4 linked regions of the Homo sapiens genome follow. The protein of the gene in region 3 interacts with the protein of the main gene of each other region in a biochemical or structural test. Each region holds a gene or a part of one and is shown on either strand. Other genes may lie near its edges.

Region 1 (7,025 bases), on a different chromosome or scaffold from region 3:
CAGAATAAATGTTTAGATTACTCCCACCCACCCTCAAATAAAGTGCACAGTCCATGGCAGACCATAGAATAATGCAACAGGAAAAGCCCCTTTTTGTGTATTATTATTTAAAAATAAAATACAAACAACAGAAATAAAACAAAGATTCAGCAATTCTCTGTATCTTGCAGAAAAAAGGAAAAGCGCAAAAACGCCCTGCTTGACTGTCACTTGTGTTAATACACGTAGCCTTCGTTGTAGGGGTGGGGGTTGCAGCAGCCCCCTTCCGGCATGTAGGCCATGCTCTCATCAAAGTGAGAAAGAGGCACTGTGTCCTCCTCGTTGATGTGACGTTCCATGTCTGTCTTCAGCAGTGGACGCTGATTATCTGGAAAGGCCATGGAGAAAAGGGCTTCTGGATCACACACAAACTTGTAGACATATCTCTCTCCAGCCACCTGATGATAACATGGAAGAGAAAAACCCATCCTCACCATCGCCAGATGGGGAAGGACAGGAAGGAAAAAGCCAAAAACGTGGTTTAATATACAGGAAAGGATGGGTAACTCTGGCCCAAAAAAGCAAACAACTAATAGCAGATACACATAAAAAAAAAAAAGTCTTTACTTTGTGGAATAAACTACAGTTCAGTCAAGGGAGATGCAAAATGTTGACCTTGAATAATAATTAATTAATTCCAGATATAGCTAGGAAGCACAGGAATTTGCTTGTCTTAATATAGAGGTAAACTTACATCGTTGTTTTGAAAAAAAGTCAATTATTTAATGCAGGCATTTCATATTGAAAGCTTTTTTTCTGCATTTTAAAAGGTAGTATCTACAAATCTGTACTTTTAAGGTACACTGTCCCTCTTAATATTACATATCTGAAATGGTAGAAAAACTAAATTCAAAATTTAAAAGAAAAATGTGCTTTATTCCCAATAAGACTAGACTAGTAATTCACTGATTCACAGAATAAATGGATTCTTTACTTTTTTTCTTTTTTGGCAGTGTGTGTTGAAAGAAGAAAGAAAGGAAAGAAATAAAGAAAGAAAGAAAAGAGAGAGAGAAAGAAAGAAAGGAGAGAGAAAGAAAAAGAAAAAGAAAGAAAGGAAAGAAAGAAAGAAAGAAAGAAAGAAAGAAAGAAAGAAAGAAAGAAAGGATACACAGCCTCATTTAAATGAAAGATGGATCAAAAGGACAGTATCCTGGGTACATCACTTTTAAAAATGAAGGCAAGATGCATTAGACAGAGTTAAGGATGTGTGTAAAGTGTCAAATTGAAGTAAGAGGTGTAAAAAAGTGAAAGGAATTTAAAATACACAATGCACAGGGAGGAAATGAGAAAAAGAAATGTGACAACTGCCTGGAATAAAGAAGTAGCATAATTTATAGGGTATGACATACCCCAAACTTAAATTCTGAAGAGTAATGCTTCCCTAGAAAATTATAAACAACTGAGTGAGATGAATACGCCTCTTGTTAATAGACAATGCTGAGATGCTCTCAAAACCCGGGGTGGGGGGATGGGTGGATGAATACAGTTCTTTCTATTAACTTTGATAGTCACTTTGTATGGGTGTGTGTAAAGGTATGAGATTTTAGAAAGCTGAAGGTGACACAACACCTCCATGTTCCTGTATATCAACAAGGCATTTGCTAGTTGATTTTTGATGTGGGGCAACAGTGTGTTCCTGGGTTATAAAGTATTGTTATATCTTTGAGGGAAAAGTAACAATTGTCAATGAATGCTGCTGCTCTGAATTCAAATTTAGAACATTTTTTGTTTCTTTTGCCCTGAATTTAAGTAAGAGGAACCACTTTAGAGAATTCAAATAATCTGAATGTACCTAGGTTTGAAAGAATGAACATTTAGTAGTTTTTATGAATTTGGACCTGTTTCTTAGACTACCTCTCAGTGGCCTTTGCTGTGAAATGGAGACAGGAATGGCGCCTCAGAAAGCCCATTGCAAGGTTGGGATGGAAGTCTCCAGCACAGAGCACTGTGCCAGAAACAGAGGAGTCTGGCATACATTTATTTACTTTAGTCCTTCATACAAAGAAAATTAAGATCTTAAAGGTGAAATGATGAAATGACCATAAACATAAAAATAGCACTATCAGGAACAAAGCTGAGATAGTAAATCCTAGTTTTCCTTTATTTTTTTCTTTGTTCAAAGTATTTGGAGAAAAAATAAAATAAAATAAATGGCCTGCATACCTCTGAGTGTTTTATAATGTGCTTTGTTTTGTTTGGGGCTGTGGAGGAAGATACATTTGCTTTAAGTACTGGACTTCCTTTGACGGGTTGCTACTGGCTATACTTAAAAATTATGTAATAAATGAATTAAAATGTGTAACATGCAATCAAGCTTATGCAATCTCTCAAGGACTCTGCCTTTCCTCACTGCTTCCTTCTGTATTGCTTTTGAATAAACATTTTTAGGGCTACTACTTCATTTGCTGGACTATGTTAAATGCTACTGAGTTTAGAACAAGGGATGATAACCAACCAAGGGGAATGATGTCTTCCATTATGAGTAACAGAAGTACTAACGTGCAAAATGCTGTACATTAAGTATAGCCAAAATGCAACACTGAGACAGACAGAAAAAACAGGAATTTTTCCAGGGAGATAAATCAAAAGTAAACAAGGAGATAGCTTTAGAGCTGTGCTTTCAATGGCTGGATATTCAAATTATGTTTTATCTCTTAAAATTTCAGAAGTAATATGGGGATACTGAAGGATAAATTAGAAATTATCAATTAAGTTAAAACAAAGGGTCTATAATTATATCATCCAGAATATAATCACCATTAACATATTGGTATATATTGTTCTAGGCATTTCCTAATTTTGAAATAGAAGTACACATAGGCATTGTCTGTAAGGTAAACATACACTGTTCCATTGTTTCTTACTTCTTCCGTATTACTAAAATTAATTACCAGTTTTCAATTTTTTTAACATGTTCAGATGTAAGTTATTTTTATTTTTCTCTAATCTTCTAATTTTCTATATTATATACACCACATATGCCCACAAAGTTTTAAGTTAGTGAACAAATATAGCCATATAAATATTTTCTCCTACATGTTAAAATATATAATTCAACATCATAGTTTTTGCTATTTAAAAAAGGACAGCATAGTTTTCCTCTGAATGACTATACTAGAATTTACTTGAACATCAGAATGGTACATATCCGAGAATGTGATTAGCTGGGTGCAGTGATGCAAACCTGTAGTTCCAGCTACTCAGGAGGCTGAGGCAGGAGGATTGCTGGAGCCCAGGAGTTCAGATATACTTTACATTGTGCCAGTTACAATGTAAAGTATCTCAAGTACATTATTTCATTTAATAATCACAGCAACTTTAATGAGGCAAGAATATCACCATTTACTAGGAAAATAATCTGTTCAAGAATGTAATCTGGTGAGAGGCTAGCATTCAAACCTAATTCCTGACTGCCTTATCTGTTACTGCTGTGCAATACTGCCCGGGGACACTGCTGAGCACCATCTGTGACAGCCCAGGCAATGTGCCCCCGCATTAGGAAGATGGTGGTGAAAAGAAAGGAATGGAATGTATTTGAAGGATCTTACTACAAAAAGGTAGGTGAGAGAAAGGGAGGAATTAGAAATGACCCCAGGGTTGAGATGAAAAAGACAGGAGGAGCAGGTAGTAAACTGTTATACATTTTGAAGGCATGATTGAGAAAACAGGAAGCAACTGAAAATCGAAGTCAGCCTTTTCTTTTAAGGATCATGGAAGTTCTAACGTCTGAGCCAGCAAATTCTAGGGCACTGAGATAATATGCCTCTTGTCAATAGACAATGTTCTAGGAAAGTCAACAGTGCTATTTTTCGCTGCTCTAATAAGCTTCATGTAGCAACTGGTCTAGTTTTTCTGGGTAAAACTATGGTGACATAAAAATGTGCCACAATCTATAACATGTAACTATGTTTACAAACCCTAAAATAAACAAATGATACAAAATAAAACTGTAACGTTCACAATAGGTAAATCATAAACTTGGTTCACAGTCAAAGCAATTAGATTTCTGTACACTTGCAAAGCTAAAGGGTGTAATAAAAACAAATATCCACGTTTTATCTTCATTCATTTATTTATTCCTTTCTTCAAAAATGTTGTATTTTATTTTAAGTGTAATTCACTTGTTTTTTCTCTACTCTTTTTTAAAAAGCTACTCTTGGCTGGGTGCATTGGCTCATGCTTGTAATCCTAGCCCCTTGGAGGCCAAGGCAGGCAGATCACCTGAGGTCAGGAGTTCAAGACCAGCCTGGCCAATATGGCGAAACGCCATCTCTTCTAAGAACACAAAAATTAGCTGGGTGTGGTGGTGCGCACCTGTAGTCCCAGCAACTTAGGAGGCTGAGGCAGGAGAACTGCTTGAACCTGGGGGACTGAGGTTGCAGTGAACCAAGATCACGCCACTGCACTCTACCCTAGGCGACAGAGCTAGAATCTGTCTCAAAACAAACAAACAAACAAAAAGCTACTTTCAAATATTATGGGAAGCTCATTTGAAATAAAATATATTGAACTTCCACAAACCAAATAAGATCAAATGTTCATTTTTAATGAATGGTTTAGGATGTCAAACTATCAGATGATAAAACTAGGCAAGATTTGAGGCAAGGAAGAAAATGTTTTCACAAATGAGAAAAAGAAATGTCTGTTTTAAGAATCAAAACAAGAAAAAAGTACAAATTTATTCTAAAGATTCTTTATTGCTATAAACAAAAGCATTCCAAAATTATATAATTGTAGACAATGTGCAATAAAAACTTCTGAAGACAGATGTGCTATTAATACTAAAACAATCTTTTTTAACCATGTGCAGCAAAGTAGGACCTTCCAGAAAGCCTATTATTCTGTATACAATATCACTACACATTTGTCTACAATGTCTAGGCATTTATACATAGAAAGGCTTGTAATACCAAAACCAAGAGCTAAGCATTTGTTAAAATGAGTGAAAAACTCGCTTCAGCAATGCAATGATATGTGGCGTTTAAAGTATGATGTTCAGATTAATGTGCAACATTTCAATGAATTTTAATGCTGTATTAGCTGCTCACCTTTTGCATAATTCCTTTCTCATAGTAATAGCGGAGTGAACGGCTAAGTTTATCATAGTTCATAGCTGGCCTGTTTTTCTGAATGCCCCAACGTCGGGCCACCTGCCGCGAAACAGAATTACATTGTAGTGTTAAGTATTAACTTATCAGCATATTTCATAAAAATTATTTAATTAATTACTTCCAAACCCACAAAAATGTCCAACTCAAGGATATAAGTAAAGTAGCAAGAGCTATCGTAATCTGGATTTCCTGTCTCCTGGTTTGCTTTTTTTTTTTTTTTTGAAACAGAGTCTTGCTCTGTCACCCAGGCTGGGAGTGCAGTGGCGCGAACTTGGCTCACTGCAACCTCCGCCTCCTGTGTTCAAGCAATTCTCCTGCCTCAGCCTTCTGAGTAGGTGGGATTACAGGTGGGCCCCACCACGCCCGGCTAATTTTTGTATTTTTAGTAGAGGTGGGGTTTCACCATGTTGGCCAGGCTGGTCTCGAACTCCTGACCTCAGGTGGTCCACCCACCTTGGCCTCCAAAAGTGTTGGGATTACAGGAGTAAGCCACTGCGCCTGGCCTGGTTTGCATTTTAAACCAGGCGTGCAGTGATCCTTCTAAAACACCACAATAGAATTATTTGTCACTATTGTTTTGAATACAAAATTAAATGGAAATAAGGAAATGTTCTTACAACAGGAATGAACAGGCTACAGTTCACCAAAATGAGGCACGTTTTTCATTCTGAGATATACTGTCTGTTTTATCCTTCTTGGTTTTTCAGACAAAAACTATAGATAAAGAGCAGCTTAGTGATCTCCTTGTAAAGGTGTTTTACTGAGGTTATGATAAGCCAAAGGAAAAAAGATACCCTGCTCAATACTATATGAAAGAGTGAACAAGTGACAATGTGTGTAGCAGAGGAAACAGTACACAAATTAATAAACCGAACTGCAAATACTTTTTATTGCCTAAAGCAGCAGCCGAATAAAACTGTGGGTAATACCAAACTGAAGAATTAAGCATTCATTTAGAGAACGGTAATTGGATGCTAAAAATAAGAAGGAAGTGGAAAAGGTCACCATGTATATGAGTCCACAAACAAAAATCTCTAAAGCAGAATGTCTACTCTGTTGTTTAATAAAAAAACTCAGAGCTTTTTATTATGTGGCTTTGGAGGAGCAATGTATCTAAGAGTTTTTCAATAGAGCTTTAAAAAAAATCCTCTCTCCTCAATGTATATATATCCCTACCTCATCACCACCCCAGGCTAGCCAAAGCAGTATACAGAATAGTGTAGCTTGCTTTTCCTACCCCAGCTAAAGTCACTCTCTCATTAATTTCCACTTTTTATTAGTCTGAGAAGAAACTGCAGCTGCCACGCAAACCTAGGCAACCCCAAGAGGACATTATCTAATAGGGCTAGGGAGCGCCTTCATTTCCATAAAATTCCAAGTTGTTGCTATGTCATATATACTAAAATAGATTGCTTTTCAAAGAGATCATTCTGTCTCTCTTTGCTTTATTAGTAATAACCTTTCTCCAGGTTTTTTTTTTCCTTTAGAAATACCGATCCTAGCTATTTTCCCTCTCAGTAATTTTTATTCTCTGAATGAAGAAATAAAGTACTTTAATGACATGCATCAGTATGTTTTTTAAGAGTAGAGAGATGCGATGTAACAGGGACAACATCATATATCCCAGCAGACAATCACAGTGGCAGGAACATCTCAATTTCCCAAAGATAAACTTCATTTTAATGTAAATCTTCTGAGCAATAGTGAATTGAAGCGGGGGTGGGGGCGCTGGGGGGAGGCAATAAGAAATGAAAGCATTTTCTAAAGAATATTTCATTCAAAAACCTAACTATGGACATCAGTGAACCTTTAATAGGCATAGCAGCCGAACTATATGCAAACCTGGAGGGGATGTGAAAATAAAGTATTAGTATC
Region 2 (7,025 bases), on a different chromosome or scaffold from region 3:
GTTCGGACTCTGGCACCAACCAGCTATGGAACCCTGGGCAAGTGAACCTCTCTGGTGCCCTAAGGTAGAGAAATGTCTAAAAATCACTCCAGCCAAATATTCGGCTCTTCCTTTCTAGCAGTTTAAAAATATTTATAATTATAGATTTTAAAAAATAAAGTTATATAATTTTTAGATGCCAACTGAAACTATACAGAACTATATATATACATAACTCTATATAACTCTATGACACAGCACATAAAACTTACAAAGCATCATATAGAACAATGTCTCATAGTTCATATGTCTCAGGGTTCACTTATTTTTTAAACAGATTTATTCACATCTGTAATACAATTATTTCTTTGTTTTGAATACAACCTGGAGGGAAGCATATGGGAGACACAGCCTTTATTTAAAAAAATGAAGTAATGATATGGAATGATTGACAGTTGGATAGAATTTTCATTGTCGGCACTTCTACTTCTTTATATGACCCTGCACCTTTCACAGTGCTAATATTTGTTTAAGGTTGCTTAACGTTGTTCCTCTCCTCTAGAACTTTGGAAGTAAAAGCCATTCTCATCTTTAGAAACAGTAGATTCAATAATAATAAATAATAATAAACTAGAAGCCTGAGTTTCTGTTCCTACCTGTCAGTCAATGCCTAAATAATTTCATTTTCACCCATTCACCCATTCATTACATGAAAGGGGCTGGGATAAGAGAGAACACTCCTGAAGGGGAGGACTACTTTTTCTCCTCCTTTTAGTTCCTACCCACTCTTGCATGGGTTTTATACACATATGTGGTTTCAGATTTTATGAATTCTATACTTTCAAAGTGGGTGAATGTCAAGTTCAGCTGTGACTGTTACCGAGCTGGATGAAGCTGCCCAGATGCAGCCTGCAGATGGTGTGGAATGAGGGGCTCAGTGCACAGAGTTCAAAGTGCAAACAGAAGCTGTGTAAGAAAGTGCAGCAAACTGTGGTTGGTGTTAAAACTGCTCCTGAAAAAAATGGCACTCAAACCAATGTATCTTAGTTGACCTAAACTCTCTTTTGCACATTCTGGGGCAGTAATAAGAAACAAACATTGATAGCTATACATATTATAAAATTTTGCACAGTAAAAGGGGAAGTGCTTCTCTCTTGAGCAATGAGTGCCACTCTGACATTTTTTGTCTCCCTTAAAAAACTCACCTAGGATGGGCCGGGTGCAGTGGCTCATACCTGTAATCCCAGCATTTTGGGAGGCTGAGGCGGGCAGATCACGAGGTCGGGAGATCGAAACCATCCTGGCCAACATGGTGAAAACCTGTCTCTACTAAAAATACAAAAATTAGCCGGGCGTGGTGGCACACACCTGTAATCCCAGCTACTCAGGAGGCTGAGGCAGGAGAATGGCTGAACGTGGGAGGCGGAGATTGCAGTGAGCTGAGATGGGGCCACTGCACTCCAGCCTGGTGACAGAGCTAGTAGACTCCATCCAAAAAAAAAAAAAAAAAAAAAAACCAACAACAAAAACTCACCCACAATGGAATGTGACTATGGAATACCCTGCGGTGTGTTCAGAGCTCTGACTTCTGTTTGCTCTTTTTAACATAACCCCCATCTGGCAAGCTGACTGCTGCAAGATTTTCTGGGTCTTTCTTTAGGATCTACTAACAATGAAAAACATATATATGAAAACCTACACATTTTCAGAAGCACATGAGAGCTGATCAAGACCCACGTACCTCCCAAGGAGAGGAGATGACAGAGGCTGCTCTGTGGTGTTGCTCTCAGGCTATATTTGATTTATTGCTCAAATCTTATTATTTCATTCTCCATTCGAGACTAGCAAAGTTTCTTTTGAGAAGTCACAGTCTCTACGGAGGGTATTCTAACGCCCAGAAGTAAAAGTTGGATGTTGGCAAAGAAAGCAAAGTAGAATCTTTGCAAAATGTTGGAGCTGCATAGTTCTCTCTCCCAATGGACATGTTTCAAGACTGAATACGTTGAGTATTTGATTTAGAATCAATTTAACATGAACTTCGCATTTATGCAAAGCAGCATCAGTCCTGAGATCAGCAGAGCGATTGAGCAAGCCCAACTAGCAAACTGAGATTTCTATTTGTGATGACCTTTCCCATTTGAGGCCCCAAAAATGTCTTGGGGAACTCATTGTTTAAAAAGAAGTCCATCAAAAAATGGACACATATGGACCATGGCATGGGAGGGCAGTGCTGCATACAAAATCAACAATTCTCTAAATGAACACCGATCTTGCAGAAAAACAAAATGAAAGCAAAACAAAAAGAAATTTCTAATTTCAAGAGAAAAACTGAATAACAACTTTCTTTTCATTCATCCTTTCTTTCTTCTTTTTCTTTCTTTCTTTTTTTTTTTTTTTTTAACGAAGCAATGACTTTCTCAGGGAGAAAGATTTGCATCCATGCTGAGGAAATAGACAGGGCCAGTAATCACACAGCAACAATCATCTGTAACTTGCAGAAATTCAATGTATGAATAAGTGTTTAAAGCCTAGATAGAGGGCAATTATCTGGTTATCTGTTTTTCATATTTCTATCAGAGATAAAAACCTCTTTAGGGAAATTTATGAAGGGCCATTTGAAAGAAGGTTTCCCTCTTTTGTAGAAAAGAATTCTCTTAAAAATTAAAACAAATTTGGGAGGCTGGGGGATTTTTGAGAGTTTAAAAGAGTGAGGAAGATGGGGGGCGGGAAGCAACTATTTCCAGCTGCGAGAAACCGATCAACCTCACAGCAAGGTGTGGTGGCTCTGATGCAAGCAACATTCCCATAGATACAGGGCTGTCTGGTTTTCTATTGCTCATTCTAACTTGAGGAGACGCTCAAGTGTGATTTGGGGCTTTGACACTGAAAATAGGTGTGAACTTGGATCCATTTAACCTAGCCCCTTCCCCCACCTCATCCCTTCTCCTGTCCAGTTTGCTTTCAATGGGTCAACAATAAATATTCACCCTTGGCATCCATCTGCAACTTCCAAGAGGGAATGAAGGAAGAACATAAAGTTTCTCTGCATTTGTTTCCAAAGCCCAGCTGGCACAGAAAACAAATGATACAAGATATGACTGGGAAGGCACACAGCCTGTCTTTGTCACCAGGTCTGGCAGATGTGGCTCTGGGTTCACGAGACATCTGCTCCCAGCTACCTTCCTCTCTGCTTCCCTCCACTCTCCAGGCTGGAAAGTGACAACTCCATTGTCCTCAGTTCCCTCCAGCCAGAGGCCTGTGACCTAGTTGTGGCCTAAGCAATATGTCAGCGAAAGTTTGCAGAGAAGGGCTTCCCTTCCTGAATAAAAATACCAGGACCCACAAGAAGGGGTTGAGGCCTCCCATGTCCTTTCTGCCTGGACAGATCAGAGGTGCAGGCCATCTCTCCCTGGCCTCAGCATGGTGGGACCAAAACATAGGAGTGTCCTGCACCCCACCGTATCAGCCTGGACTGCTCACTCTGGAACTCCTGCCCGTCTGCTCAAGCCACTGTGGTCAGCTTTTCTCTACGTGCAGCCAAACATAATTTTCATGGGTAAACCTGAGCAAGGGCCTTACTCTTTCTGTCACTGCAATAAAATACATAATTTCCGTCATGTTTCGGATTTAGTGTTTATTCCTCCACCTTGGCTCCTTTCTGGCATCATTACTCAGTGTTATTGCAAGATGAGGGAGGGAGAGAAAGAGAGAGATTCAGAGAGCCAAGAGAGTATAACACGTGTCTCCCCAACAAAGAGTGAAGCCTGCGCAAGTGAGAGCAGTGTGTCTGAGCTTATCCTCCCAGCATGTTGAAGGTGACAGGAGGTTTTGAGCCCTGTTTTGTGTTCAAGAGCCAGCCTGTGTTCTCGTAAAGTACTCCCTGATTGTGTTCACGGTCAGCAAAGATCTCAAAGGAAATGCTCCCTTTTTACCACTCCAGGACATCCTAGTTATTATATTTTATGAGAGGGAAGAGGTCAAGAAAGACATACCTCTTTGCCTTGGCTGGAGGCTCAGCAAAAAGGCTAAAGAAGGGGACTGGTGGCATCTGATGGGGAGGAGCAGGGGAGGCCGAGAAACAAGAGTTGTGGGAAAAGTGCTTTGAACATTTTAATATCTGTTCAGGCACCAGTGTAGCTTCTGAAGATTTCTTGAAAAATGGGAGTTGGAGAAAGCAATTACGAAAATGAGGGAAAATATCTTGCATTTGTGAAATGATGGGAGAACTATTTTCTAAACAGAAAATAAAATATTTTTAAGTGGCTTTGTGTTATTAAGCTAAGAAGATTTGTGATGTGTTTTATGGTACCTCTTTCTGATGCATGTAAAGACTTCCAACAGGAACTTGGTAATTTAGATGCAAGCTTGTCTAGAATATTATTAGCCCATTTTGCAGAACTCAAATGAGACACAAAGACATCTATTGACTCATCTAGGTCACTAGGAAGTTACCTGAGAAACTGAAAATTTGCTTGAGTTTCCTGTGTGGGCCTCCTCTGCTGCCTCCAACAAGACAAGCCATCAAAGCTACCTTCATGTCTGGGCTTTGACAAAGTACATGATTACAAATGTTCCCAAGGAGCAGGGAAAATGGGAGTCTCTCAGAGGCCCAGAGAACCTGCTCAAAGGTATACAGGCAAAATGGCCTTTTCCTTAAGAAGAGCCTTGGAGAAAATAAAGCTACACCAGCAGTCTCAATGAAAAGAGACATCTCTGTTGTCCTTGTGTGTTCAGATCAAAGACTTAGCATGACATCCTGCCCCAACTAGCCTCCATATTTAAAATCAAAACTTGTTAAGTTGAATTTCATAAAGGGCTCTCGTTCTTTTTCCACAAGGGAAGGAAGGCTGACCTGCTGGTGAAAAGCCCTTAGGGTGGACTGAGTTACCCACTGCTGTCCATGCCCATGTGGGATCCTGCAGCTCTAACTTTGCCCAGGCTGTACTCTCGGCCTAGACCACTCTTCCTTCTTTCCTTTGTTCCCAACTTCCCCTCCCCCAACTCCTGTGTCCCTCTCTCCAGGGAGCCTCCTGTAATGTCCTCCAGGGCATTGTGACCTCTCCCTCCCTAGAGCAGACAGCGGTTGACTGGCTGCCTTCTTAGATAACTGAACATTGATAGCCACCATTCAGATTTATTGCTTACTTTATATGGCTGGGCAAAGCACCTTACACAGATTAATTCGGTCCACACAGCTACCTTAATAACAGGTACTATTGCAATCCTTACTCTGCAGATGAGGAAACTAAGGCTCAAGAGAGAAGTTCTATATGCTATTTGATGAAAGCCAGAAAAAAGAAAAGAAAGAAAAGGCCATCACTGTGTCATCTGAGCACATTCCCTGCACAGACCTCCTGCCATTGCTTTCTCTAATAGCAGGTGCTCTTATGCCTCCAGACTCTTCTCTCTAGGCCTTGGGCTCCTTATTAAAGTCTGTGTGTGCACAGCGGCTGTGCAGCCGTCCTCTGTCCCAGCATCTCACCAGGCTTGATTTCTCAGTAAAGGGCTACATATTTTCTGAGCACATCTTTCGGATCTATTTTGAGAGAATGTAGGAACGTCTCAGCTACTCATTTGCTTTCAAAAGCTCAGAAAGGCTTCTTGCCATTCAGAATCGGGTCAGTTGCTGTTTCCAAAGGTGCTTCTGCTACTGGTTGCTCCATGCCCCTGTACTCGGTGTGTGAGCAGCTGTGGGGCCTCCTACAGCCCCCTAAACCCCACTAATAAAGTCAGTCTGAAGTACAAAGACAATCCTCCCCAAGAAAGCAGAGCCAAGAGGAGGTTTCTTTGGGGCGGCTGCCATTTGCTCTTTTAACACTTAAACATTTCAAAATTACTCGTCATTTTCTACAGTTTCTTAGCGTGCAAAAAGTCTAAATGGCAAAGGCATGATTGTGAGTTTAGATAGTTTTATCACACCTTTTTTTTTTATAGTTTCAAAATGTGTGGGCAGTTTCAGATGTGAAACTCCATCTCACAAAGGAGGAACTACAGTCTGATTCTTTAACATCCAAGAGAGCAGCCAGGATGCCCCATCCCACAGTTTCCTTGTGGGCCAGGGTGGGTCAGATTTGCTAAGACCCACTGTTAGGGACTGCAGTATGTCTCCCTAGAATTAATACATTGAAGTCCTAACCCCAAGGTGCTCATAATTTGACACTATTTGGACATAGGGTTTTAAAATGACGTCATTAGGCTAGCCCCAATACAATGCAATTGGTATCCTTATAAGAAGAGATTAGGATACAGACACACACAGAGGGATAACCATGTGATGAAACAGGGAGAAGGGAGCTGTCTGCAAAACCAAGGAGAGAGGCCTCACCAGAAATCAGCCTTGCCGACACCTTGATCTCACACCTCCAGTCTCCCTCCAGAACTGTGTGAAAATAAATTTCTGTGGCTTAAGCCTGAAGTCTTAAGATCTTAAGTGTTCAGTCAAGCCAGAAGAAGTGTCTTAATAAATATTCTTCTGAAAAGAGCGGCAAGCCGATGCTTAGAGAAGAACATACTTTATACATGCAGCTTTGTACTTGGCAATTCCCTTTGAAAGACTGCTTCAGTGGGGTAAACTTGAACCGCTGAGAAGACAAGCAGGGAGTCGGTCTCGCTGAGATTTTTACCTGTGGTTCTAGGAACGCAGAGGCATGTGAGTGTTCAGGCTTTGCATAGACCACTAAGCCACTTCTAAGAACAAGGCTACCTGAGCCATTTTGCAAAAATATGTACGTGCCGAGGCTTTTCCTCCCCACACCTACCTCAACTCTTTCTGCCGACACACTGCACTTTTCAAGGGAACCCAAGTTTGGGTTCGGCAAGAATTGTACGTTGCACACCGTGTGTGATAATTCCAGGGAATTTCAATCGCATCTTGTCTTCCTTCCTAAGCAAATTCGGTGGGAACCTGGTGTGGTGTGATAGAAAAAGCCCCGAGTTCTCTGTGGTAGACCACATCAATTTCATGTGCCAGTCTCTCAGACTCCGGCTTGCCTCTCTCAAGGAAGGGAACAATGGTTTGCTTGGCTTCACTCCTCTCTTTCCCCCCA
Region 3 (7,025 bases):
TGTTGCTGGTCATGGTCATCATCATCATCATCATCATCATCATGAGTTCAAACCTCATCAAGGCTTAAAAACAACAACTATCAGGAGTAGAGAGCTTTTAAATAGGATCTGCTCTCCTAATCACAATTGAGGACTTGTTCTTTCCACCAAACTCTAACTCCTGTTCAGGCGCTCTGTGTCATTGGTCCTCATGTTCCCAGGGTCCAGCATTGGGTACAGTCCTCGGTAAACACCCGATGGACAAATGACAAAAAGAGACGTCGCAGCACACAGGGGCCAAAAGAGATACACAACAAATTTTAAAAGAGACTCTGTGCTGCAAGAGGATGGATTGAGAATAACTTTACTTGTTTTTTGGGAGGAGGTTAATGGGTGGGAGGGGTGAGAGGGGAGATCTGATTTACATACGGACTTGAGACTCCCAAGGCAGTACCCCGGGTCGTCCTCTGCAAGGTTGCCCCGGTGGGGTCTGACGCCCAGCTGGCGTCCGGGAGCCGGGGTGGAGTCCTGGAGGGAGGCGAAGCGGGATGTGGAGGGGGCCTGGAGTGGGGGGAGGGGGCGGGTGAGGCGAGGCCCGGCCCGCCACAGTCCTGCCTCTGGGCCCCGGGAGCGTCCTCCCTGTGTCCGGGCCGGGCGAGGGCTTAATGCTATGGCCAGCGGGGAGGCCTGGCGGGGCCCGGCGGGGGCTGCGGGCTCAGTGGGGCGGGTGGCGCCGCTCGGCCAGGCCCCCGCGGCCCAGCACTTCGCCGCTGAACTGGTAGGTGAGCTTCTTCTTCACCTTCTTGACCTCGCCCGTCTTGCCGTAGTTGCGCAGCGCGCGCGCCATCTTCTGGTAGGTCATCTTCTTGCGGTTGCCCTTCTGGATGCCCCAGCGGTGCGCCAGCGCCTCCTTGTGCTTGGACGAGAACTGGAAGGTGCCCTTGTCCTTGTCCACCCACCAGATGCTGTCCTTCATGTCGCCGCTGCGGAGCAGGTCCAACAGGAACTGGTACAGGCGGATCTTCTTCTTGCTGCCTGCGGGGGGGAGGGCCCGGTGGGAGGGGGCCCGGGGCCCACATGGGAGCCGCCCCCACCGCCTTGCGTACGCACAGGGGCCCGGGGACGGGGTGGCCGGGAAGGGCAGGGGAACGGCTGCCCCAGCCCGCGCCGGGCGTGCATACACAACGCACCCACACTCACACACACACACATGCTTGCGCACACACAGGCGTTCACACACACCCACTCACACCCACGCACTCACCCCCCCCACGCGCACACACTCGCACCCACACAGTGCACCAAGTACACACACATGCTCACATCCACATAACGCACCCACACCTCCTTACACATGCTCACACATCACGCCCACACCCACTCACACACGTGCTCACACAACGCACCTTCTCACACCCACTCACACTCATGCTTAAACACAATGCAACCACTCACTCATGCTCACACCCACACACGCTCACACGTACAATGTATCTGATCACACACATGCTGTCACACACATGCACACACAATGCACGTGCTCACAGACTCACACCCACATGCTCACACACATGCTTGTGCAATGCACCCAAACGCCAGATTGCACCCACACCCACCCACTTGCACATTCACACCCACATCTGCCCTCACACACTGTCACTTTCTCACACACCCACACAATGCACCAGCTCACACTCACACACATGCTCACACACTCATTCACTAACATGCCCCCACACACTGGCACCCACACGACACACCCACTCACATGCTTGCACCCACCCACATGTTCAAACCCACACTGCATCTGCTTACACATTCACAACCCACTCACACACACCTGGTCACACCCACTCATGCTCACACCTCATTCACACCCACTCACATGCACACTCACACCCACCCAATGCACCCACTCACACACATGCACACACACTCAGACCCACTTACTGCCCCCACACACGGTCACACCCAATGCACCTTCTCACACTCATATGCCCACTCACACCTGCTCACACACACCTCACACCAGGTTCACACACTCATGTTCACACACCTGCTCATACACCTCACACCAGGTCTCATAATCACACCTGCTTATACTTGCTTACACATGCTTGCACAAACACACCTGCTTACACATCTTACACTGCTCACCCTCACACCTTACATTGCTCACCCTTGCACACACATGCCCCTGCTCACACACACATGCTTACACCACACCATTCACTCACACATATCCACTCACATATGATCGCACCTACCCACACCTCACACACACTTGCACGCACACACCTGCTTACACACATCTCACGTTACTCAGCCCCACACGCACACACCTGCTCACACACATCTCACATTACTCAGCTACACACACACGCCCCTGCTCACACACTTGTGCTCACACACCTCACACCATTCACTCACGCACACACCCACTCACACATGCTCACGTCTGCTCACACACATGCTCACCTATCCATACACACACTTCCTCACACACCTCACACCAAGTCTCACACACACTTATGCTTACAAACTCATGCTCACACACATGCTAACACTTCACACATGCTAACACCTCACACATTCACACCCACTCACATGCTCACACCTCACACATGCTCACACCTCATACCTCACACACATGCTCACATCTCACACCCACTCACACACACCTGCCCACACATATCTGCACACACACATGCTCACACATATGCTCACACATCACACATACCTGCTCACATACATGCTCACACCTCACAGCTGCTCACTTATCACTCACACGCTCACACCAGCTCTTTCACACCTCATTGACACCTGCTCACTCATATTTCACACCACTTACACTTGCACCTCACACCTGCTCACGCATGCACATACATTCTGCTCATGCATATCCACTTGCATGCTTACACGCCTGTTCACACACAACCACTCAGACACCTACTTGCACACTCAAATGCTCACACACATTCTGCTCTCACATCCACTCACAGCAGCTCACACTCATGCATGCTCACACACACCTGCTCTCACACTCACACATCACACCCATTCTCTTGTTTTTGAGATGGAGTTGCTCTTGTTGCCCAGGCTGGAGTGCAATGGCACGATCTCGGCTCACTGCAACCTCCACCTCCCGGGTTCAAGCAATTCTCCTGTCTCAGCCTTCCAAGTAGCTGGGATTACAGGCGTTCACCACCACGCCTGACTAATTTTTGTATTTTTAGTGGAGACGGGGTTTCGCCATGTTGGCCAGGCTGGTCTCGAACACCTGACCTCAGGTGATCCGCCTGCCTCAGCCTCCCAAAGTGCTGGGATACAGGCGTGAGCCACCACGCCCGGCCCACTCACACCCATTCATGCTCACACACTCATTCACACACCTGCTTTCACACATACACATACCTGTTCACACACATGCACACCTGCTCACACACGCAGGTGCTTAAGCACGTCCTCACCCCCCACACACACCTGCTCACACATGGGAACACACACATGCTTACACATGTTAAAACACATATCCACTCACATACATGCACAGACCTGCTCACATATACACATACATGCTCACACACCCCAGCTCACACCTTCCTGCTCACACACACCTGCTTACATACACCCTCAAACATGTTCACACCCACTCACACATCCACTGACACACACCTATGCCCATTCACACACACTTATATCACACACATCCCTGCTTACATACACATTCACACATATACACTTGCTCACACACCTGCTGTCACACCCCCACTCACACATATCACTCACACATGCCTGCTTACAGCCACTCACATATACCATGCTCACATCCCTGCTCACACAGGCACACCCACACACTGCTGACACCCACTGACATCATACGTGCACAGCTGCTCACACGCACTGAAATACATTCATGTGTTGACAGACACACAAACATGGCCACACCCACTCTCAGCCACACCAGCTCTCACATTCACCTTCTCACACACCCACTCACACAGCCACTCGCACACATGCACCTGCCCGTACCTGTGCACACGCACCCTCTGCACACTTGCTCACACACACCCAGATGTACACACACTCATGGCACAGAGAGACACACACACCTGGCACACTTCATGGAGATGCCCGTATGCACTACACAGCAGATACACACACACAGAGACAGCCACAGACAGCCCCACAAAACACACACACTGGCAAACATGCACACACACACACACGCGACTCGGTGGCGTGGCTGCTGGGTCAGTTGGCCTGGCTGGGTGGGGGCAGGGCACAGACACGGCCAGGGTCGGGGCCAGGGTGGAGGGCCAGGTGCCCCACCTGTCTCCCCAGGCAGGAGCCCAGGCCCGGGCTCCAGGCCATCCGCCTCGCCGTCAGACACCTCCAGTGGGGGGCTCTGCCGCTCGCCCTCCTCCTCATCTGAGCTGGGCTGGGCTGGGGACAGGGATGGGTACTGGAGGCACATCCGGGGCAGGTAGGAGACCTGGACGGTGGGGGAAGGAGATCAGAGTCAGGAAGGGCCAGCTTACAGCTCAGGGGGGCTGGGAGGGAGGTCAGCTGGGGAGAGAAGGAGTGCAGAGGGCAGGGGACAATGGCAGGCACAGGAGACTGGAGGAAGAAGACCAGGGAAAAGGGGGGCCAGTTGAGGTGCTGCACATAGGGTGCAGGCTGTGGGGCGAGGGGTGCTGACATCCAGCCCACCCAGCCCTCCCAGCTGGGCCTCCTGGTTTAGGACTGTGGGCACCGGGGAAGTGGTGCCTTGTTCTCCTCCCTGCAGCGGTGCTGTGTGGACCCGCATTAGGCTGGGGTCAGAAGAGGGCATGCTAGGGACCGGTGCGTTGGGTCTGGAAGGGGGTTTCATAGGTGGGATGATGAGTGAGTGGAGGGACCCTGGAGGTCAGTAGGGGTGGTAGAGGTCAGCAGAGGTCACTGATCCGGGTTAGGGTCAGTAGGGAGGGTCACTGGGGAGAGGCAGGGTCAGTAGAGGTGTTCAGTGACTTGGTGTGGGATCCATGAGGGCTAGTGAATGGGGGTGGCAGACAGTGAGGCCCAGGAGGGCCCACAACAAGGCGTTGGGATGGGGAGGCTTGGTGAGGGTGCGAGAATTATCTGGGGTCTGTCCATACTCGGGGTGAGATGAGATAAGGGGTGTGGGGTCATGAGGTCACTTGGGGGGTCAGGCGGCAGCCGTTGGAGCTCCAGCCGCCGTTGGCACTGTGGGGCAGGAAGCTGAGTTGGGTAAGAGCCTGTGTCAGCTTCCTGTGAAGCTCCCGGGCCCCACCACAGGCCTGGCAGTCTCCTGGGGGACGGGGCAGGCGGTGGCATGCACCTGGTGGCCAAGACTGGGATGGGGTGGCACCATGGGGGTATCGAGGACGTGCATCTGCTCCAGCTCCATGTGGCGGTAGAGCTGCTGCAGCTGCGGGGGCTGCACGCTCTGGAGCTCCGTGAAGTTGTTCTCGGCGAAGCTCTCGAACTCGCTGTGCACGTGGTGGGGGTGGAAGTCCCAGTAATGGTCTGTGGGGGACAGCCAGGCAGTATGGGGTGAGCTCAGGGTTGGGCAGGGCAGGAAAAGGTTATAGTAACATTAAATAATACTGCCAGGCCATATGGGGCCTAACCATCTCGTTTAACCCTCGCCACCTGCATGGTTACTCTAGGCCTGCATTTTATAGATGAGGACACTGAGGCTTCGAGCGGCTACATAGCATGCCCAAGGTCAAAAGCATCCGGGTCACAGCCAGGACTCAGGGCTGAAGCAAAGCTCGTGTTCTCAGCAATTCCATCCTGATTCCTGTGCAGTCACACAGACCGAGCGTCTAATCCTGGCTCTGCCATTTACTTGCTGTGTGACCTCAGGCACATATGTGGCCTCTCTAACCTCAGTTGAGTTGCCTGTAAAATGGGGATCACAGTTATTGGGAAGATACGAATGAGTACACATTTGTAAAACACCTCGCACCAGAGCCGGCCCTCAGGGAAAGTTGATTCCCCTCCTATCCTGTTAAAACCTCCCAGCCAGGGCCGCGCGCGGTGGCTCACGCCTGTAAACCCAGCATTTTGGGAGGCGGAGGCGGGCGGATCATGAGGTCAGGAGATTGAGACCATCCTGGCCAACGTGGTGAAATCCCATCTCTACTAAAATACAAAATATTAGCTGGGCGTGGTGGTAGGTGCCGTAATCCCAGCTACTCAGGAGGCTGAGGCAGGAGAATCGCTTGAACCCGAGAGGTGGAGGTAGCAGTGAGCCGAGATTGCGCCACTGCACTCCAGCCTGGCGACAGAGTGAGACTCTGCCTCAAAAAAAAAAAAACTCGGCCGGGCGCAGTGGCTCACGCCTGTAATCCCAGCACTTTGGGAGGCCGAGGTGGGTGGATAACGAGGTCAGGAGATCAAGACCATCCTGGCTAACACAGTGAAACCCCGTCTCTAGTAAAATACAAAAAAATTAGCTGGGCGTGGTGGCGGGTGCCTGTAGTCCCAGCTACTCAGGAGGCTGAGGCAGGAGAATGGTGTGAACCCAGGAGGCGGAGGCTGCAGTGAGCCGAGATTGCGCCACTGCACTCCAGCCTGGGCGACGGAGCGAGACTCCGTCTCAAAAAGAAAAAAAAAGAAAAAAGAAAAGAAAAAAACCTCCCACGGGTTCCTGAGCTCCCTGGCTGCCCACAGTCTCTCTCTCTGTCTCACACACACACACTCACACAGCCTTGTCACATGGCCAAGGTGTGACAGCAGAGTCACAGGGCTGACATTCCTCACACACTAGAACTTGTCCAGGCACACGGTGGCCCTTCCTCTTCAAAGCCATGACCTTAAGCAGTGGCACCTGTGTTCCCGTGAGGTTCCTGGGACCTGAGACTTTCCTGGAAAACCCCCTGTGGGTTCCTTGAGTCTGTGGTGGAGGAGACTGAAGTCCGGGGAATAACCCCATGCCACCAAAAGCCCTGTCTTGGAACTGGGGAAGATCTTCAGCATGAACACCTTTTCCAGGAACAAAAACTGCCACACATCTGCGGGACTTCCTGGGCGCAATT
Region 4 (7,306 bases), on a different chromosome or scaffold from region 3:
GTTTTTCACTATCAAAAGGATATTATGTGAAAATGCTCTAAAAACAACAGTTTTGTACGAGATGATGTTAAGAATAAAAATATAACATCGTTGGTAACATGAGAAAATTGATGCACATCAAATGTGGAGCATCCAAAGTGTCTATTTTTCCAGTAAGTTTAAACATCTTTTGCTCTGGTGCACTATTTGCCTAATAAAGTGTTTCAGAAAGTGGGATAAAAGTGGGACCATTGTTCATAAGGCTGTCAGAACTTCATGGCACGCATGTGTTTGCCATAATTTGCTTCCAGTTTGACTACAGATCCTTACTTTTGATTATGCTGACATTTTTACAGGTAAGTAAATCTGAAATAACTGGAACTTTCTCTAACAAAAAAATGACAACTCACTGAGAATGAAATATGTAAATGTTTAATTTTAACAAGCAGTTACAAATCGTAACAGACAAGAACTCTTGGATCTAAGAGACCAAAATGTAATTTCTTACATAACAGACAAAGTTACAAGTTATAATCGTTCACTAATTACAGTGAAATTCCGGACTTTGACACATCAATCAATAGATGTTCCAACGTTCCCCCTAGAGATCCCAGTTCAAGTCTTAAATATTTCATCTGCTGAAGTTTCCTCAGAAAAGGCTCCTTTTCCCAGGATTTTTTAGGTTTCTACTTTTGCCCCTTCTCCCACTAAAAGAAGAATAAAGGAAAGTTGGGGAAATCAGAGAATCCTGAATCTGCGTGCGTGGTGAAGTTAAACAGAGTCACCCTCTGGGCCTGGTAGGGATAACTGCATCTGCCTAGCATCAAGACTATCCACCGCCTGGTCTAACCCCAGACCCCGTTGTGCACCTGCCCTTAAGCACCAAAAACTGAACTGCTCAAAGAGAACCTGCAGTCGATATGAAAACTAGTAAATGACTGCAGGCTTGACAGCAGTCTCGGTGATGCCTGAAAATCCACAACAGGAAATCTAACTATCCTCCATACCTCCTGGCCATTCATCAAAAGCAGACCGAGTCACAGCCATAAGGAGGCCGGTGGCTGAAGACGAATGCCAGCACCACTTTTCCTCATTTAGAACAACTGAGTTTTTTCCTTCCATAACCAAGGACAAGGAGCAACCGGAGGGAGGAGGTTGAAGAGGGAGGGGGCGGGCAATATGTCCCCAAGTTTCAGACAGTAGCGGGTCAGAAACGAGCGAAAGCCACCTCGCTCTTCTGAGCTACCTCGGCCGCCAGTCCCCGGGATCACATCCGCAGCCGAGCGCCAAGGGTCCGGCCTACACAGACTGACCCGGGCGTTTCACCTGGTGCCCGACCACGGCTCTGGCGCCCTGCCCAGGCTGCCCGCCTCCTTCCCCTCCCCCGCTTCTTAGGGAACAAGGAGGAGAGGGTGGCAAACGCACCCAGACCGGGGGCCAAGGGGAGACGCCGGCGCGTGCTGGGAGGGGCATGAGTTACACCCGCGACCCTTGGAACTTGGAACGGCTTCCCCAGCCCCGGCGGACGCCGGCCCCCAGGCCGTGCCACTGGGAGCAGGCGGGCGCCGCGATTGGCCGCGGCCGGCTTCACTCGGTGGGCGAGCCCTACCGGCGAGGCGGAAAGGAAGTGGCGGCCGCCGCGGCTTTGCACCAACCATGTTCGGCCAGCGGGCGAATGTCACCCGGCGCCCGGAGCCGGGTCGGAGGGCACGGGGCGGGCACTCGCGTCCCCACCCCGCCGCGGCCCGCGCCCCGGGACCCCGAGGGGACGCCGGCCCCCACTGCGCCGCTCGGTCCCCGGAGGCTCCCCGCCCCCACCTCGCCCGCTCCGTAGCCGAGGCGGGTCAGGCCCAGCGCGCGAGGCCGGCCGGGGGCGCCTGCGGGGACCCGGGGGCGCACGGCGCTAGGCCGCGGCCCGGGCGGCTGACCCCTCGGCACGGTGCCTTCCTGGGACGCGCCGCCCGAGCCCCTGGCGCGCTGGGACAAGTGCAATGACAAAGCCCCAGGGCCCGACCGGGCGCTGGCCGGCGGGAAGGAGGACGCGGCGTCCCTTCTGAGCGGCGGCGGCGGCGGCCCAGCCCCCAGGAAGCAGGGCGCGTCGGCCAGGCCCGGCGCCCGGCCCGGCTCCGAGCCCGCCCTCCCGCCCCGGCCGCTGGCACCCGACGCCCGCGACCCGACCCCGAGCCCGGCAGGCAGGCGAGCCCCTGGACCGCCGCGGGGCGCCCCAGCAAGTTTCCTCTGGCCGTGGCTGGAGGCGCTCCTCCCGGCCGGGGAGCGGTGCCTGCTTATTTACGCTGGAGGCAGCCTGGAGAGGCGCCGCCGCGGGCACCGAGAAGGACCCGCTCCCCTCCTTCGGATCCGGTGGCGGCGGTGGCTGCACACACACACACGCGCGCACACACAAACACGCACATACACACAATTTTGTTTTAAATGAGGCCCGACTCCAGCTGACCTGCACCCCCACACACAACACCTGGGGCGCAGAAGCACACACAGCAGGTCTGTGTCCATGGAGCCACCTCTCCGCATCTGCAAATCCAAAAGTGAAATTAAACCTCCACCAACCTCCTCCTCCTCCTCCCTCTCTACCTCCTCCTCCTCCTCCTCCTCGCAGCCTCAGCAGCCCCAGTAGCAGCAGCAACAGCAGCAGAACCTGCTTCCCCTAAAATCAGATGATCCATAATTGCGCCGACTGTTCCTCCAAAAATCAGTATTAATATTTATGAACCCCGGCATTTTCCGTCTGCAAAACATCGTGTCAAGGCATCAGGACACGCATACACACACGGCCCCCCACAGTCCCCAGAAACATGCCCTCGAGAGAAACACACACAGTCACAACTATTATTTGAAAAATGTTACCTCTCAGTGTGCTTTTTTCACGCTACCAATACAATTCCGCAAGGTATAAGTGTTGCTAGGGTATGTGAAATGGAAATGAAAGCCCGTCAGTTGAATAATCGCAGGAGCAAAACTAAAAGTTACTCCCCGGCTTGCCTGAGAACAGTCCAGATCGAAAGCAAAACAAGGAGAGGAAACTGCGAAGAGCCGCGGCTGGAAATCCCCCCACCCCCCGCCCTCCTCCGGCCGCGCTCCCTCCCTCGCCTCCCCTCTCCGCCCTCCTCCCTCCGCCCTTCCTCCCCAGTGTTTGTTTCAAGCTTGTGCAACCGGGAGGTGGAGGCGGAGGGAGGGCGCGAGCGGCCCGGCCGGGAGGTGCGGAAGTTCGCCGCAGCAGCTCATTGGCGGGCAGCGCCGCTTTCATCATTTCTCGGAAAAGTCAATTTCATTTTCGCTTCCCCAGGTCGCGGCGGCGGGAGCAACAAGCAGCGGCTCGTGAGTCCGCGGCTCGCACCCAGGGGCGCCCGCACGTGCGGCTAGAACGTCCGAGTCGGGGTCCGGGGCGGGGGGCGCAGGCCCGCGGCGGTAGGGGAGGAGAGCGGGCACCCGAGTCTCCATCCTCAGGGTGGCCTGAAGGTTCCAGGAGGGCGTCCGGCGAAGGCACGGGGCTGCGACCATCCAGTTAGCAGGGCTGGTGTGACTGTTGAGAGTAAATGAAAATTCGTTTTGTGACACCGACCACCTCCAAGGAATGAAAGGAGCAGTCAGCCGAAACGACAGCATTACTTGCGTCCTTACCTAATTGGAACCTTATCCGTGGCTGAGGGTGCCACCATTGGAGGGGCCGCCGCCCCCTCTGACACCACCTGGCGCTCCGCTCCATTTAGGAGCTAGAACGAAAAGGAGGCCCATCCCCCAGTAAGTCACAGCCCACGCCAAGATGAGTTCTGGAGCCTGTGCGACCGAAGTTTCTTCACCGCAGGGCGAGGTGGACAAGGGTGTGAGTTACTTTGACTTCAAGACGTCTCAGTGGCGGCTGGTTCTGGAGAGAGGCTTTATGCTGGAGCACTTCCAGCAAAGTTCGGCTGGGGCCTCCTTAACTCACTGGCTGGTCACCCTTGGCCTCGGTTTTCAACCAAAGCCTAAGGCCTCAGTTTTCAACGCTGTAAATGGAAATAAATGAGAGAAGAAAGTACAGCCCGTGTGACAAGTGCAGCAAGCAATGCAACTTCCTTGGGACCTACCCTTTGTGGTCCCTTGCTTTAAAAGTATAGATTCACATTTAGTTAGACCTGTTTCTTCCTCGCATGCAATTTCACCAGTCTTTTCCCAGACTTCTGTACTCAACAGAGGAAGTTCCTTCCTGGGAGACCATAGCTGTTTGTATGTAAAGAGTTGCGAAAAAACAAAAGCAAAACAAAAAACTCCAACACCTCTCTGTCACAGAAGTATTGAATTATATAGACTGGAAAAATGGAAGTATCCAAGAAAACGCGTGTGGTAAGAAAATGGCTAAGGTGCAGGATTCTGTTTTGTGGCTCTGGTCTCAGAAATAGACCTCACATACACATTATTCCTTATCCCCTCTATTATAATACTCACTTTTTTTTTTTTTTAAGAGACAGGGTAGGCCGGGTGCAGTGGCTCATGCCTGTAATCCCAGCATTTTGGGAGGCCAAGGCAGGAGGATCACCTGAGGTCGGGAGTTTGTGACCAGCCTGACCAACATGGAGAAACTCCATCTCTACTAAAAATACAAAATTAGCCAGGTTTGGTGGCGCATGCCTCTAATCCCAGCTACTTGGGAGGCTGAGGCAGGAGAATTGCTTGAACCCAGGAGGCGCAGGTTGTGGTGAGCCGAGATTGTGCCATTGCACTCCAGCCTGGGCAACAAGAGCGAAACTCTGTCTCAAAAAAAAAAAAAAAAAAAAAAGAGAGGGTCTTGCTCTGTCACTCAGGTTGTGCTATCATAGCTTACTGTAACCTTGAACTCCTGGCCTTAAGCGATCCTCCTGCTTCAACCTCCCAAGTAGCTGGGACTACAGGCCTGTGACAGTGCCTGGCCCAGGCACTGACTTTCTTATGTCATATAGCAATGACCACTAAGGGAAAGTCTATACAAACTATAGAATAGTTGTCATTCTTTACCCAACCCGGGACACAAGTTAAAAACCTAGTATTCATTTTTTTTTTCCTGTACCAAAACAATCATCTTCCTTTATTTTTCCTGGAGCGGGAAGAGGAGAGTGGAGAAGAAGGGAAGAATGCAAAGTGTCACTTTGAACTTCTCGTTCACCACACACGTGGGAGTCCACTCATGTCAGCAGCCTCCGTGCACAGGCCCCAGGTGAAAGAAAGAATGAGGTCTAGTTGGACCAGCTAACACTGCCTGCCTTGTGTTTACGAAAGGCAGCTGCCTCTGTGGTGTGATTTCAGGGGAGCCAGACAGGGCCGGGGCCACGAACCTGCATCCTGCATCCTAAGCACCTATTGCCATGCGTGAGGCTAACTGGAAACTCACTTGCTGGGTGCAGATAGCTTCCAAACTATTGTGATGCTCATGCTTGACTTCCCAAGGAACGTGTTTCAGGAAAGGCCATTGCCCTCATTATGGTCTTTGATAAGCAGGAAGAAGTTTGTTGTTCCTTTTTTTTCTTAATGCCCTACTTCGTGCAACATACATCCAATCAGTCATATCCTATTGACGCTACCCCTAAATATCTCTGGGCCTGGCCCGTGCTCAGGGCACTGCCTTCATTCAGTTACTGCACTTGCCTGCTGCCTGTGCTCCTGGTCTCCTGCTTGGACTCCCCCAGGCCAGCAGCCACACTACTGCCAAAATCCAGTCGAAAATTAACTTCAGGTAAAGCACAATTCCAAACCTAACACTGCCCCCCTCAAAAGCCTCTCTGTAGCCTTCAGAATAAAGACCATATTATTTGACAAGACACATAAAGTCCATTGTAATCTGGCACCAAACGACCTTTCCAGCCTCATCTCCTGCCATTGTGTCCCACAAGCCCTACATCCCTCCCTTGCCAAACCAGCCTCCGCTCCTTTTTGTCAAACAACAGAGCTGTCCTCTTGTTCATTGTTTTATCTTTAGCATGGTGCCCAGCACACAGGCACTGAAATACTTGTGAATTAATAATTACTTGCTCTTTTCATCAGGCTCTCATAAAATATTTTAGACTTGATCAGAGCCTTGTTTTATATTTTAATAGCTTTTTAATATAAATGTAATTAATGTTTCTTGTACAGAATTTGGAAGATGCAAGAATGGTGAGAGAAGAACATAAGCCACCTGACATCTCACTAGTCAGGAATAGACCTGTGGATATTTTTATGTATTTCCTTCTAGTGATCTTTCTAAGGGACCGTTTCCAATCCGCATCTCCTCTGTCTGTGTGTAGGATTTAAGAATGCTGACTGTGCAGGCTGCTCTCCACGATGCCCATGTGACAGCCTGCTGTCCTATTCTAGTTCTTGGCCGGTTCCTCGTCTGCTGCCAGCCCCCTAAATTATGGTGTTTCCAGGCATTCTATCCTCAACCCTCTTATTTTCTCATTCTACATGCTTTATCTTTGGGTGTTCTCCTCCACGCCCAGGGCTTCAGATATCACTATTTGCTGATGACTCCAAAATCTGTAACTTCTGAGCTCTGACCACATTAACTCCTACACATGTCTCAGGTGCAACAAATTATACATGTCCCAAGTCAGAGAGAACATCTTTTCCACAGCCTTGCACTGTTCACTTCATTGATTAGCTGGGAAACTGGGAGGACTCACAGACTGCCCCCTTTCCTGAGTCCTGGGGCCTCCCTGAAGCATGGGTGTTGCTTGCAATTTTCCAGGCCCCTAAACTCATAAAACATAGACAGAATGAATTTCTGTTCTTAGGCCCTTGATGACATGTCACTGCAAACCAAAAATGTACAAATGAACCAAAACAGCCACATGGTACTGATATACACAGTCAAGAAGTATCTTAGCCCTTTGATGAGATGCATATAGTAATAAATCTCTGTGGAAACTCCAGCCTTTTTGGAAGCCTGGGTAAGAAAGTAGGCTCAGTGGCTCACGCCTGTAATCCCAGCACTTTGGGAGGCCGAAGCGGGTGGATCATGAGGTCAGGAGATCGAGAACATCCTGGCTAACACGGTGAAAACCCGTCTCTACTAAAAATACAAAAATTAGCCGGGCGTGGTGGTGGGCGCCTGTAGTCCCAGCTACTCGGGAAGCTGAGGCAGGAGAACGACATGAACCCGGGAGGTGGAGCTTGCAGTGAGCCGAGATCACACCACTGCACTCCAGCCTGGGCGACAGAGCCAGAGCGAGACTCCATCTCAAAAAAAAAAAAAAAAAAAAAGAGTAACCTTTGTCATACTGAGGAAATCTGACCAAACACTTCAGTCTAACGTGAAAAAAGTTGAAGGGTCTTTTATAGTGAAACTAGAGTCATCTCCTGGATGAAGCATGTTTGT

Evidence for each region.
Region 1: the proteins of SPI1 (region 3) and ETV1 form a complex in vitro, tested with the Homo sapiens proteins (one study listed by BioGRID).
Region 2: the proteins of SPI1 (region 3) and RUNX1 form a complex in vitro, tested with the Homo sapiens proteins (one study listed by BioGRID).
Region 4: the proteins of SPI1 (region 3) and IRF2 form a complex in vitro, tested with the Homo sapiens proteins (one study listed by BioGRID).

Annotation. Positions count from the first base shown.
Region 1 is NC_000007.14:13,895,651-13,902,675, forward strand, and holds part of ETV1 (ETS translocation variant 1), read right to left. Parts: intron 5,190-7,025; coding exon 5,088-5,189; intron 438-5,087; coding exon 216-437; 3' UTR 1-215. UniProt on the Homo sapiens protein: Transcriptional activator that binds to DNA sequences containing the consensus pentanucleotide 5'-CGGA[AT]-3'. Required for olfactory dopaminergic neuron differentiation; may directly activate expression of tyrosine hydroxylase (TH).
Region 2 is NC_000021.9:35,039,300-35,046,324, forward strand, and holds part of RUNX1 (runt-related transcription factor 1), read right to left. Parts: intron 128-7,025; exon of another isoform or gene 1-127.
Region 3 is NC_000011.10:47,354,533-47,361,557, forward strand, and holds the end of SPI1 (transcription factor PU.1), read right to left. Parts: intron 5,509-7,025; coding exon 5,321-5,508; intron 4,475-5,320; coding exon 4,312-4,474; intron 1,015-4,311; coding exon 695-1,014; 3' UTR 328-694; downstream 1-327. UniProt on the Homo sapiens protein: Pioneer transcription factor, which controls hematopoietic cell fate by decompacting stem cell heterochromatin and allowing other transcription factors to enter otherwise inaccessible genomic sites.
Region 4 is NC_000004.12:184,471,535-184,478,840, forward strand, and holds the start of IRF2 (interferon regulatory factor 2), read right to left. Parts: upstream 3,017-7,306; 5' UTR 2,845-3,016; intron 1-2,844. UniProt on the Homo sapiens protein: Specifically binds to the upstream regulatory region of type I IFN and IFN-inducible MHC class I genes (the interferon consensus sequence (ICS)) and represses those genes. Also acts as an activator for several genes including H4 and IL7.